Homo sapiens: one gene and its partners. The protein of the gene in region 3 purifies or fractionates together with the protein of the main gene of each other region. This does not show direct contact. Each region holds a gene or a part of one and is shown on either strand. Other genes may lie near its edges. The genes, in order: SCLT1, BMX and KIZ.

The links.
Region 1: the proteins of KIZ (region 3) and SCLT1 purify together in Homo sapiens (co-immunoprecipitation; 4 studies listed by BioGRID and IntAct, with this or other methods). This does not show direct contact.
Region 2: the proteins of KIZ (region 3) and BMX purify together in Homo sapiens (affinity purification with mass spectrometry; 2 studies listed by BioGRID and IntAct, with this or other methods). This does not show direct contact.

The regions. Positions count from the first base shown.
Region 1 is NC_000004.12:129,091,623-129,095,374, reverse strand, and holds the start of SCLT1 (sodium channel and clathrin linker 1), read left to right. Parts: upstream 1-1,835; 5' UTR 1,836-2,271; coding exon 2,272-2,305; intron 2,306-3,752. UniProt on the Homo sapiens protein: Adapter protein that links SCN10A to clathrin. Regulates SCN10A channel activity, possibly by promoting channel internalization.
Region 2 is NC_000023.11:15,498,770-15,502,521, reverse strand, and holds the start of BMX (cytoplasmic tyrosine-protein kinase BMX), read right to left. Parts: upstream 1,716-3,752; 5' UTR 1,582-1,715; intron 1-1,581. UniProt on the Homo sapiens protein: Non-receptor tyrosine kinase that plays central but diverse modulatory roles in various signaling processes involved in the regulation of actin reorganization, cell migration, cell proliferation and survival, cell adhesion, and apoptosis.
Region 3 is NC_000020.11:21,241,064-21,244,815, reverse strand, and holds part of KIZ (centrosomal protein kizuna), read right to left. Parts: intron 572-3,752; coding exon 528-571; exon of another isoform or gene 1-527. UniProt on the Homo sapiens protein: Centrosomal protein required for establishing a robust mitotic centrosome architecture that can endure the forces that converge on the centrosomes during spindle formation. Required for stabilizing the expanded pericentriolar material around the centriole.

The DNA of each region.
Region 1 (3,752 bases), on a different chromosome or scaffold from region 3:
GATGGAGCCTGGAGACAAACTACAAAACATGACAGATAATGCAGGAAGGAGCATGAAGTAAGTACTAAGGTGGCACCTACCTTGGGAGAAGTGGATAAAGAACTCAGGAGATGTGAAAAGGAGGAACATGAGAGGGGATCCTTTAAGGATAAGTGAAATCATCACAATTTTGTTTCCTAATGATGAAACTTATGTTGAAAATACTCCATTAAAATTCAACTACTAAAATCTTGTAACCACAAACACAAACGCAAAAACAAAAAACTATCATGATCATAATTATGATCATGTAAGCTAAAAAATTCGAGTGCAGACATAAAAGTTTTCACCTGAGATATTCACTTTATGTAAATACCACTCATCAGTTATAGCCAGAAGGTATTTGCTTCCATCCAGTTTGGGTGTAAGCGTAGAGTTAAGTCTATAATTATTTATTTGATGCCAAGTAGAAATACGACAATATACAAGGTTCAAATGTGGGAGAAGTTACAAGCAAGTCCTTGGAGAGTCAGTGAGATGTTTATGAAGAAAGAGTCATATACTGAACTTCAAAAACGAGTTGGACCTTGCACACTCAATTTTCCCTTAGCTATAACGTTTATACAAAAAGTTTTTGTGTAAACGTTATAGCTACTAAAAATCAGAACAAGTTCAATTATCACCAACTCAAAGCTGGATTAGACCTTTTCAATGATTATTAAGCTACACATCCATATTTAACAGCTAGTCTTTAGAGGAAGGGACCATCTCATTCTATTAACAGTGAGTATTGAGTAAGGCCTTCAGATGCCTAACTGCATATATTTGAATACATTTTTAAAATTTCTTAACACATATCGCTAAGGTTACTTTGTTTATATGACATTATGAGTACGGGACAACAAAACTCTTAAGCCGTTAAACAGAAAGCCAAATCAAGCTGCATCTATGACATGCCTGTTTAGTGAAACTTTACTTCAGTCCATAAAAATACAATTTATTAAAAGCACAAAACTAGTGGCTAGCTTCAAGTTAACATTTTTGTTGCTAGTGGTGAGATTTCCTCTAATGTTAAATGATTTTTTTTAAAAAAATACGTTTTAAGTCCAGACAAAATTAATTTTCAAAAATGAAAATTGTAATCTATCCACAAATGTAAGTTTTACCGTTTTGTTTTTTGCAAAAAAAAGTACCTTTTATCTTTCCTTATATTTGAGGAAACAAGCTTATCTTTGAAGAAGTAGCTGCTGAATTTGCAAGATCTTTTGAGTACTTCTAACTACACGCTTTATTACTACACAGTTAAATATTTAAACAACAGTTGTCTCCTTTGTCTAAAGACCCACAAAGACCGAGAAGGTACTTACCTTCTTGAGATGACCAAATCCAAACCTAGAACTCCTCCAGAGGTACAGCCTTGGTGGGAGATTCTGAAGACGCCAGTCTGGCTTCTATCCCTAGCCGCAGGAACCTGCATCTTTTACTTAGTCCAGAAAGGCTTAGTATATTAGTAACCCAAAGATAGTGAGGGCATTTAAACTGTGTATTTCATTCTCTACTCACGTTTGCATTTTGGTTTTTTGTTTGTTTGTTTGTTTGTTTTAAAGAGGTTGGGCCTCACTACCTGGAGACACTGTCCCACCAGTTTGGCCGCCGCGCCAAGCCGGTGGCTCAGCCCGCTGTCATCCAGGTTCTCACGACTCCTCCCATTGCTTGACAGCCAGCCAATAGCGTGCTAGGACTCTAGGACGCGCGATGGCGTAAGCTCCAACGCCCGCGTGATGACGCAAGAGGCGCCACCGTCTCCAAGGAGTGGTCCGGGGCACCGGTTTCAAAGTCGCAGGGCGGGCCGAGTGGACTTCCGCTGCTGGCCTGGGGCTTCCCAGCCGTCTTGGCGTTGTCCTCTCCAACCCCCGCCGCTCCGCGTAGAACGCCGCTCTCAGGCTGCCGTCAAGCTCCCGCGGCACTCTCCTAGGTGGCCCGACGAGACCCAGAGTGACCCGCGGGACGCCTGTATCGACCGCGTCCTCTTCCCACCAGCGTGGGATTCGGTTGAACGTGGAGTCCCCAGCAATCTTCAGTCTCTCACCAGGGCCAGGGACTCGTCTGGGGCGCGGGGGAAAGAAGCGTGGCGGGGCTGTAGATGCCGCGTGAGTAGGATGCAGATTGCACCGCTGGAGCGCTTGACAACCAACCGAGCGTTGGCTTAGTTTTGTTTTCCCGCACAGCAAGCTCTCTGTCTTTCAGAGGAAGGTAAAGGTGGTGAAAGCTCTAAACTAAAATTGTATCGAAATGGCTGCAGAAATCGACTTTCTGAGAGAGCAAAGTAAGCTCCATGTTTTTTTGAGACTTCATATACAATGTTTAATATCGTCGTCGTTGACCGACAAATCTTTTTTGAATGCTGGTTGGGTACATTTAAATTGGTAAAGAGTTAAAGAAGTTAGTTGCAGGAAAAAAAAAACCTTGATGTTATACGTGAGGATGTGTGTATATTTAAGCAGAACCGTGTGGTAGTACTTGTAGCTTACACAGAATTCTACTAGACGCTAAACATGTTTGTTATGCTCCTCTCGTGCTCTGAAGATTAGAAGGCTAATGGCCAGCAGGAGTTTCCAAGTGTGCATTTAAAATCTAGGGGCACAGCTCTCTGGCCATTTATTAAAAAGATGTTTATTGAACTCCTGTTTCTATTATGTACCAGACACTATGGAAGAACAGCTGCTGCAAAGATAAACAGGACAGTTTTTACCTCCAAGAATTTAATTTGGGGAGGGAAATGTATTCCAAAATATATTGAAGTGACAGCAACTGCTGGCTCTTTTGCCACAGTCTCATAGGGTTGTTGGAAAGATTAAATGAATATTAAAATATGTAAAGGATTTAGAATAGTATCTGATACATTGTGTTAAACAAATATTAACTATTACACGATTATTATTAAAATATGTTCAAGGAAGGTGCTATTGGGCTGAAACGTGCAGTACAAATATGAATTTACTATATGAAAAACTCTAGGCATCCCAAATAGAACAATATTTGTGACACTGAGGGGATTAGGAATATGCTTTGTTAAAGACTTGCAATACGGCTGGTTTGAGTGTAATATTGATGTAAATTGAATTGGAATATTTATATAGGGAAATGGCAAGTGCAGTTGAAGGCGTAGAAAGGGGCTGGATGGTGAAGGGCCCTGTCTTCTCTGTGCTAAGGAGTATGGACCATTGCATGGGTTATAGGAATTCAGTTGAGAGTGGCATGATCAAATTGTAGTTTAGAAGGCCCGGTCTGATTTTTACGGGGAATATGCATTATAGCAGAGTGCAGTTAGTTGTCTACTGTCATCATTCAGGTAAGAAGTAAACTAAGTTGGGCACAGGGAGACTGGAGATCAGGGGATTTGAGAGAAAGAGGTAGAGAGCAACTTAGTTTTTGCTTGAGCAACGGGGAAGTTAGGAAAAAGGTAGTAAGTTCCGTTTTGGTAGCATTATAGACCAGTGGTTAAGAACTCAGTCAGCCTCTGGATTTAGTCTGTCTGGGCTCACAGCCTACCTCTTTCCAGGTCTGTGACCTCGAGCAAGTTTCCTAGCTTTTCTGCACCTCAGTTTTCTCATTTATATAATGAGTATAAGAACACAAGAATCCTCTTGAAGTTGTGAGACTTAAATGAGATGATGAAAAAGCATTGAGCATAGTGTCTGGCACATATTAAGTGCATGGTATATGTTATCTAAAATAATTAATGACACTATAATGACACAATAACATTAGCA
Region 2 (3,752 bases), on a different chromosome or scaffold from region 3:
GGAAGATCATTTTCTCACAAAGAAGGCAAGAATCTTAATGCTAGTCTTTTTGGAGCTAAGTTTTGCTTTAGGTGTGAGATTAATCTTCAGTGCCCCATAGAGCTTTTCTAAGTCTTTTCTTCTTTTCAGTAACCTCTTTCTTTCTGCTCCCTCTCCTCTGCTTAGGGCACTCTCTCTGGGCAACTTCCTTAGGAGAAAAGCAAAAAGTAATAAATCCATGAGCTAGCATCTCATGCTGAATTAAACATGTAACACTGCTTTCATGATGCCGGTTAGTGCAAGTGAAAGCACCGAGCTGGGTTCGAATCCCTGCTCTGTCTCTATGGAATCTGTCATGTTACTTAACCCAGCTAAACCTCAGCTTCCCCATCTGTAAAGGCAGTGAAACAATAACCACTTCGAAGGGTTACAAGTAGTCAAGAGAAAATGGCAGCCTAATGCCCAACACCCTAGTAGATATTCTAAAAGCTTATGTCCCTTCTGATCACTCCATAGGCAAAGTTTTAAAAAGGACCATAAAAAGTTAAAAAACTAAAGACAGTGAAATAATAATGATCCTTAATGATAAAATTTTACTTCTCATCCCTCTGTCCCCAGCTCCTGGGTATAGGAGAAAATGGGAGGCAGGAAGACCTCCTCATGTATTGCCATGTCAACAAACACCAGTCCATACATAGTAGGTTTGTCGCAGACTTTCCATCCTGAGACGAGTTACCATAAAATGAGGTTGAACCATACCCTTATTGACTGTGTATTTGTGCCACCATATTTCCTACAAATAAATACTTGGATGTGACTCAAAGTGTGGTCCGTGCACTTGCATCATCCGGGCGATCATTAGACATGCAGACTCTCAGTTCCCACCCGAGACCTCGCGCAGCCAAATCTTCATTTTAGCAAGATCCCCAGGTGATCCACGTGCACAGGAAAGCTTGAGAAGCACTTACATGGACCACAAAGTTGCACTCCTTTTCAAATCCAATGAAATCATTGTGGCCCACAAAATCTTTCAAAATTATATGGATATGAGTACAACTGCATGGTTCACCTCCCTCCCACCTGTCTATCTCCATCTAAAATACACAAAGCACTTGATTTAGGGAGACCTCAGGAACCTAAGAGCAAATATTTGTAGCTAAAGTAACATCATAAAAACACAGTTAAAGAAGGTATAAGGAACATTTCTATGTCTCTTTGGAAGCAGTTATGAGGCCAATATGAAAGGCTATGGAAAGGCAATACCTAAAGAAGCGGATGGAGAAAATTAGCAGAGAATACACACAAAGCTAGGTAGAACTGGTGGTGATACATAAACAACCTGAGAGCTTCCCTAACTGAGATTTTGAGCAAGGAGTGAATTTACAGTGAAATTATAGCAGTTTCAGCCGTTGGCCTCCAAATTACCTGGTCCCATCTAAAGTCCCAGAGAAAGCCCTGGCAATTTCATATTAAAAATGTTGTACTATTTTTCTTAAAGTGAGCTTCCCAAAGTTTGTAACTTCAGGCCCCACAACACCGGGAACCAAACCTATTTTCCGCATAGTATGCGACACTGAGTAGCCACCTGCCGCTTAAACGCACCGTCTCAGCTTGTTCCGTGCTTGCCTGGGTCCGCCGCGGTGCTTGGTCTGCTGTTGCAGGAACACGGCCCCGGCTGTCCTGTTTCCAGAAGCAAATTGTTTCACATTTTCCTGGCTGCCGGGTCAGAAATGGCTACATTACTCAGTGCCCCCAACACGTTTATTGTCCTACAGAGCCTTACACAATCCCACAGGAAACCACGCTCAACACTTAGCCAACACTTGTTGATCTGATTGAACGCAACAAAAACGGAGACAAAAGCATACTTCATAAAGTTTCCAATTTTGATAACTATAGCTCCCACTTTTCCCAGGCAGCTCTCGGGTACATGTGATAACCCTGCCTTTGTTTGTAGAGCTCTATGCTGGAAAGGACAAGAAAATATCTCGGCAAAACCCGACTGCTGACGCTGACTTCTCTCACATGAGCCAGGAAACCATTAGGTAATGCAAAGTGCACAGAGAATATGCAATGAAAACTTCAACTCAACATTTGGACAAAGGAAGGCCAGAGAATATGTAAGAACAGTTCATATGATGGAAAAGGAGCTTATTTATATAGTTTAAGTTATTAAGAAATCCAGAAATGGAAAATAGATTGTTTTTGCTAAGGTATGGTACACCTAGATCGCAATGAAAAAGTGTGTCACTTGACATCATTATGACAGACTCACAACTTTTGGCTTCCCCCATTCCACTATTTTCTCTGGTGCATACCGGCTGGCCATCTGTAATAAATCTAAGGACATATTTTATGTCCTGCTATGGATAGCCAAGAAAAGTAATCATCCTTTTGGCATGCATTGACACACTGTGTTTACTTATAAATTGTTGCTTACTGTAACTTATTTGTAAGTATCTATGATGTGAAGAAGTCTTGGGTTGGCAGAAGAGAGTGAAGCTACTGGCTTTCAAAGAGGTATTCTTTTGAGTGTACATGGAATTAGCATCATTTCTATTAATTCGTTCAGTCAAGTCTTATTTGAGAACCTGCCATGTGCTGAGCATTCCGTTAGGGGTTGGAGACACAAGAGCAAACAGAAGAGAGGCAGCCCACATCTTCAAGGGGCTTATGTGTCTGTGTGGGGGGGGGGGGAACCACAAATAGTGGTTTAATTACAGTAGAGTATGGGAAAAATAACTTGCAGAAATATTTTTTAATATTTCAGTTTGGAAACTAGAATTTTGGGAAGGGAAAGGAGTCCTTCAGAAGAATTCAAAAGAGTGTAACTTACATTCTAATAGCAAATTAAAGTCACTGATGGATTCCAAATAGCTCTCCATTCTTTAGGAATATAGTAGGTAGTCATTCAAAAAATTAAGGGTGAAGCAGGGCAAGAGTGGCACAACAACCTGGCTAAATAAATTAATTCTACACTCTGCTAGTTAATTTCCTTTTCCACATGGCGATTTGTATTTACTTCACAACTTATATATGGTAATATGGCAAAAGTTCGATTCTAGAATAAAAAGTAAACTTAGGGTAGGGGAAGGAGGAGTTGGTGATATGGTTTGGCTGTGTCCTCACCCAAATCTCATCTTGAATTGTAGTTCCCATAATCCCCACATGTTGTGGGAGGGACCTAGTGGGAGGTAATTGAATCACGGGAGTGGATGTTTTTACCGTGCTGTCCTCATGACAGTGAATAAGTCTCACCAGATCTGATGGTTTTATAAAGGGCAGTTCCCCTGCACACGCACTCTTGCTTGCCACCAGGTAAGACATGCCTTTGTTCCTCTTTCACCTTCCACCATGATTGTGAGGCCTCCCCAGTCATATGGAACTGTGAGTCCATTAAACCTCTTTTCCTTTATAAATTACCCAGTCTTGAGTATTTCTTCATAGCAGTATGAAAATGGACTAATACAGTCGGTATAACTGTGGAAACACCTGGGCACAATCTCTTGGGATTTCCATCCCTTCTTGGGGGCATAAAACACCCAAGGACAGCTGGGAGGAGTGGTTTCCTCTAAGGCAAAATGTCACAGATTTATTTACTTTATTCTATTCATTCACTTCCTCTGCTACTTCTCCTGTTTCTTTGGCTCTGTATTTTCCATGAGTTTAGTTACATCCTAACTTTTGGCAATCTGCTATTACGATAATATGACTTCATTTACTCAAATTATACTCTGCATTGTCATCTTTACTCAGTTAGAATTTTAGGAATT
Region 3 (3,752 bases):
GAAAGCTCAGACTCTACCCTGAAGGTACGGGGAGGCATTGGCCGTCCTTACACAGGAAGGTCGGGGGAAGCCAGGGTTTGGAGGCTGGTGGCCAGGTGGAGGAGCTGGGAGTTCCCAGGAGCTGGGAGGAACTGGGTATGAGGAAACCAGTTAGAGTTACTCCAAGAGCCTGTCCGGTCATGAGCAATGGGTGCTTCTGAGGATGAGGAGAGAGGCAAGAAACATTTCATTGGTAAAATACAGGGTGCTGATAATTAATTAGACATGGAGGCCAGGATCCCCTGCAAATTCATACTTGCAAATTACAATGCTCTGCCCCTGTGGTCCATGGCACCCGTGTGGTCCTGTCTGTGAAGAACTGAGCCTCCAGAAGCCCTCAGGTTCCACCCCAGGGACAGCTGCAATGGCAGTCCCTGTGAGCATGCCCGCTTCAGGACTCACATGAGGGTGCAAACAACAAATGCATGTCACAGAGTTTTTTGGTTAAAACAGAAAAAGAAAATCTAGTGTCCGATTATCTCTCTCACCATTAGATTTTAAATTGATCACGGGTTTCTTTTTGTTTTCATGCCTGCAAAATAAAGAAACAGTCTAAGTTCTGAAAAAGAAAAGACAATGAGACTAATATTTTCATAATGAACGCATTAGAGAAGAAGCACTTTGATTCACTGGAGGCCAGAACTTTACACTTACTTCCCAGAGTTTAAAAGTAAAGGGAAAATATCGGGATGCAGCGTGGCCTTGTCGGGAGGGTCGCTACTCAACAGCATTGCTCCCGTCCTGCGTGTGTCCCCTCGGCAGGTCTGCATGGCCCACCCCGCCCTGCTGAGCTGTGCCTGTGTGGGGCCACGTGTTCTTGGGGGAGGATGATCGCATGTTCCCCTGAGGCAGGGGACCGGTTTCCCTCAACAGTCTTCTGGAAGACAGTGATGCATCAAACTTCAGTGCTTTCAGGCAAGCTAAAAATGAAACACTTGCAGTAGGGAATTCAAGATGTTGGTAAGGAAGTTAAAATACTTAGTCAAACCAGTGGCAGCAATACTAACAGTTAAGAAAGGAGTTCAAAACAAACACCTGGTAGAGGGCCCTGCAAGTGTCACATAAATGCTAGTGTTCGTGGCGTCCAGGACCGTCTCGACTGAGGCCAATATGACAAGAAAACTGGCTCCACGGGATATGATTTCTCTGTGTGCCTTTTCAGGAGCTTTTGCAATTTTAATGAATTTAAAAGTCTCCTCAGGGAGTGTCACTCGAATGTTTTATGATGCTGAGATTCTTTCAGAATTGCCTGAATGGTCACAGGAGATGTTGGGAGAGAAACCATTCTTGGTGCATGGCTCGACACTTTGCCCTACCCCACGCACCACCACCGCCCTTCTCACAGCCAGGGCCTTGTTCTTCTGGACACAGGAAACCCTGCAAATATATCTTTTCCTTCCCTTTGGGCCAAGTGTGGTTGACTTTTGGCTTAAAAATCTACGTTTTGCTATAATTTACTTTTTTTTTTCAGAAAAACATGCTCCACTAAGGTATCATTTTCTAGGCTACCTTTCAGTGTTCCCTTTAAATTTAGTGCCTGTTTCTTTAATTGCCATGACTGAGTAGTGCTCACAGCCATTTCTCCATGAAGCATGGAAGACCCCTACGAGCATCTGGAAAGGCCAGCAGCTGACTGACAGTCCTGGAGCTGCCAGGATTGTGGGGACCTGTCAGTGAGGTGAGCCTGCAAGAACCCATTTTACAGAAAGTGACACACACATCACACACACACTAAATGCAACTGCAGGGATGTCTATTATTTCCCCACCTCCCCCTACCTGAGGACACTGGGCTAGGTGCTGCAGGGGAGGGTGGATTATAAAAATGCTAGGAGGGGTGGAAAGAGGCTAATTTGCCAGCCGCGGTCCATACAAGAAGAGCCACAGGGGGAGCAGGAGAGATCTCTGCCAGCTGGGTGGATGGAGAGCACTGTGGCAGGTGATTGGGGGAGCTGCAGGACCACAGAGGAAGCCCGGCACCTCCAAAGGCAGAGGCCTTCACAGGACAGGACTGGGGAACAAGGTGTGGCGGGGTGGGGCAGCAGGGAGCCCCTGACACAGGAGAAAGGACACAGTGGCAGGTGAGCTCAGCTCCTCCCGTCTCAGCAAATGGCACCCCTGACCCACTAGTCTCCCCAAGCCCCTCTCCAGTCTCCACTCCTCTTTCCTTCACATCCAGTCTGGCCCTCGGTCCTGCCAATTCCACCCCCACCCCTCTCGACCCCCCTGCAATACTTCCTGCAGTCCTCACCAGTTCCCTGGGCACTGCCAGTACACTGGTCAACAAAACTATCAGCTCTTGCTTCTCTCTCTGCAACAACCTCCTAACTGGTGACACACACTCATCTTGTCCCCTACTATCCATTTTCCACTAGGCAATGAGAGTGAGCTTTCTGAAATGCAAATCTGGTCGCTCCACTTCCTCGCTTAAAATTCTTCAATGCCTTTCCATTGATTTCTGCACAAAGACCTAAATCCCAAGCAGTGCCTCCAAGGTGGATCCCCCAGGAGTGTCGTGCTGTCCTGCTGGAGCCTTCCCACTTCTGACTCCCTATCTTTACCACTGAGTCCTCGTCAAGTTGCTGTTTCACATCCACTTGTGCAGCCAACTGACGTGCCAGTCCTCCCCCTCTGAACTGCAAGATCCATGCGGGTAGTGACCACACCTGTTTCAGCTCACCTGGGTAAGGCGGTGCACAGCACTTAACAGGTGCTTAATGAGTATGTTCACTTGGAATGAACAAGCGAACTTCACTAAGCATAGGGCCCTGCTTAAAGGCATTTGATCAATATTCAATTATATAATACTTGATTTACATATTTCTATTCAATATTGCACTTCAGAATCAAGTTTCTTTGGCTTCCCTGCTGGCAAAGAAAAAAAAATAAAAACCCAGAAAAGCTGAAGCAGAAAAAAAAAGGAAAAAGTCATGCACAAGGCTGTAAACACAGACACATGAGAACATCTATGCGAGTGTGTGTTAGTCGTCACTTAACTCATCAAAAGCAATCAGCCAGCAATGCTGAGTCCCACCACGGAGGTGACCCACTGAGCATTTCAGGGACCTCACTTCCGCATGTGGCACTCTAGGAAAAAATGATTTCCTGAAGCCATGTCTCTATGAGGCCACTTGAACTTGCTTTTTCTGTTTGTCCTGTGGTTACACAGTGTAGCTTTGAGAACATTTAAGCCACAGGGAGCCAGTAAACATCCCAGTGAAATGTGAATTAATTGTGTAATGCAGGGAGCCAGTAAACATCCTAGTGAAATGTGAATTAATTGTGTAATCGTTCTTAATTGTCTGTGTGATTGGTTTTCTCACAGGAAACATGTTTCAGAGCTAAATGTGCGTGGTGCGTGGCCTACCCACGGAGAAGGGCAGAGCGTACTTTCCAGTGTTTTGTTCTCCACTCTCGTATCTAAGGAGCAATTATTTTTCCTTTTGGGAAAATCTCTGAAAGTAAATGTGACCCTGCAATTCATAGTTGATTTTTTATTATACAGAATTCTTGGGGCCAACATTTTTTTCTCTAGGTCATACCTAATATGTAAAGCTAAGGCAAGGCTGATGGAGAAGCCTGAGAACTTTCTATTGTGTGCTGGATAGAGCCAACTACTTTGGCTACTAGAGTAGATGAAAGAAAAACAAAACTGCATTTCAGAAAGTAAAAGAAATCAAAGAGTTAAGGTTGTAGGCCATGAGATATGGTCAC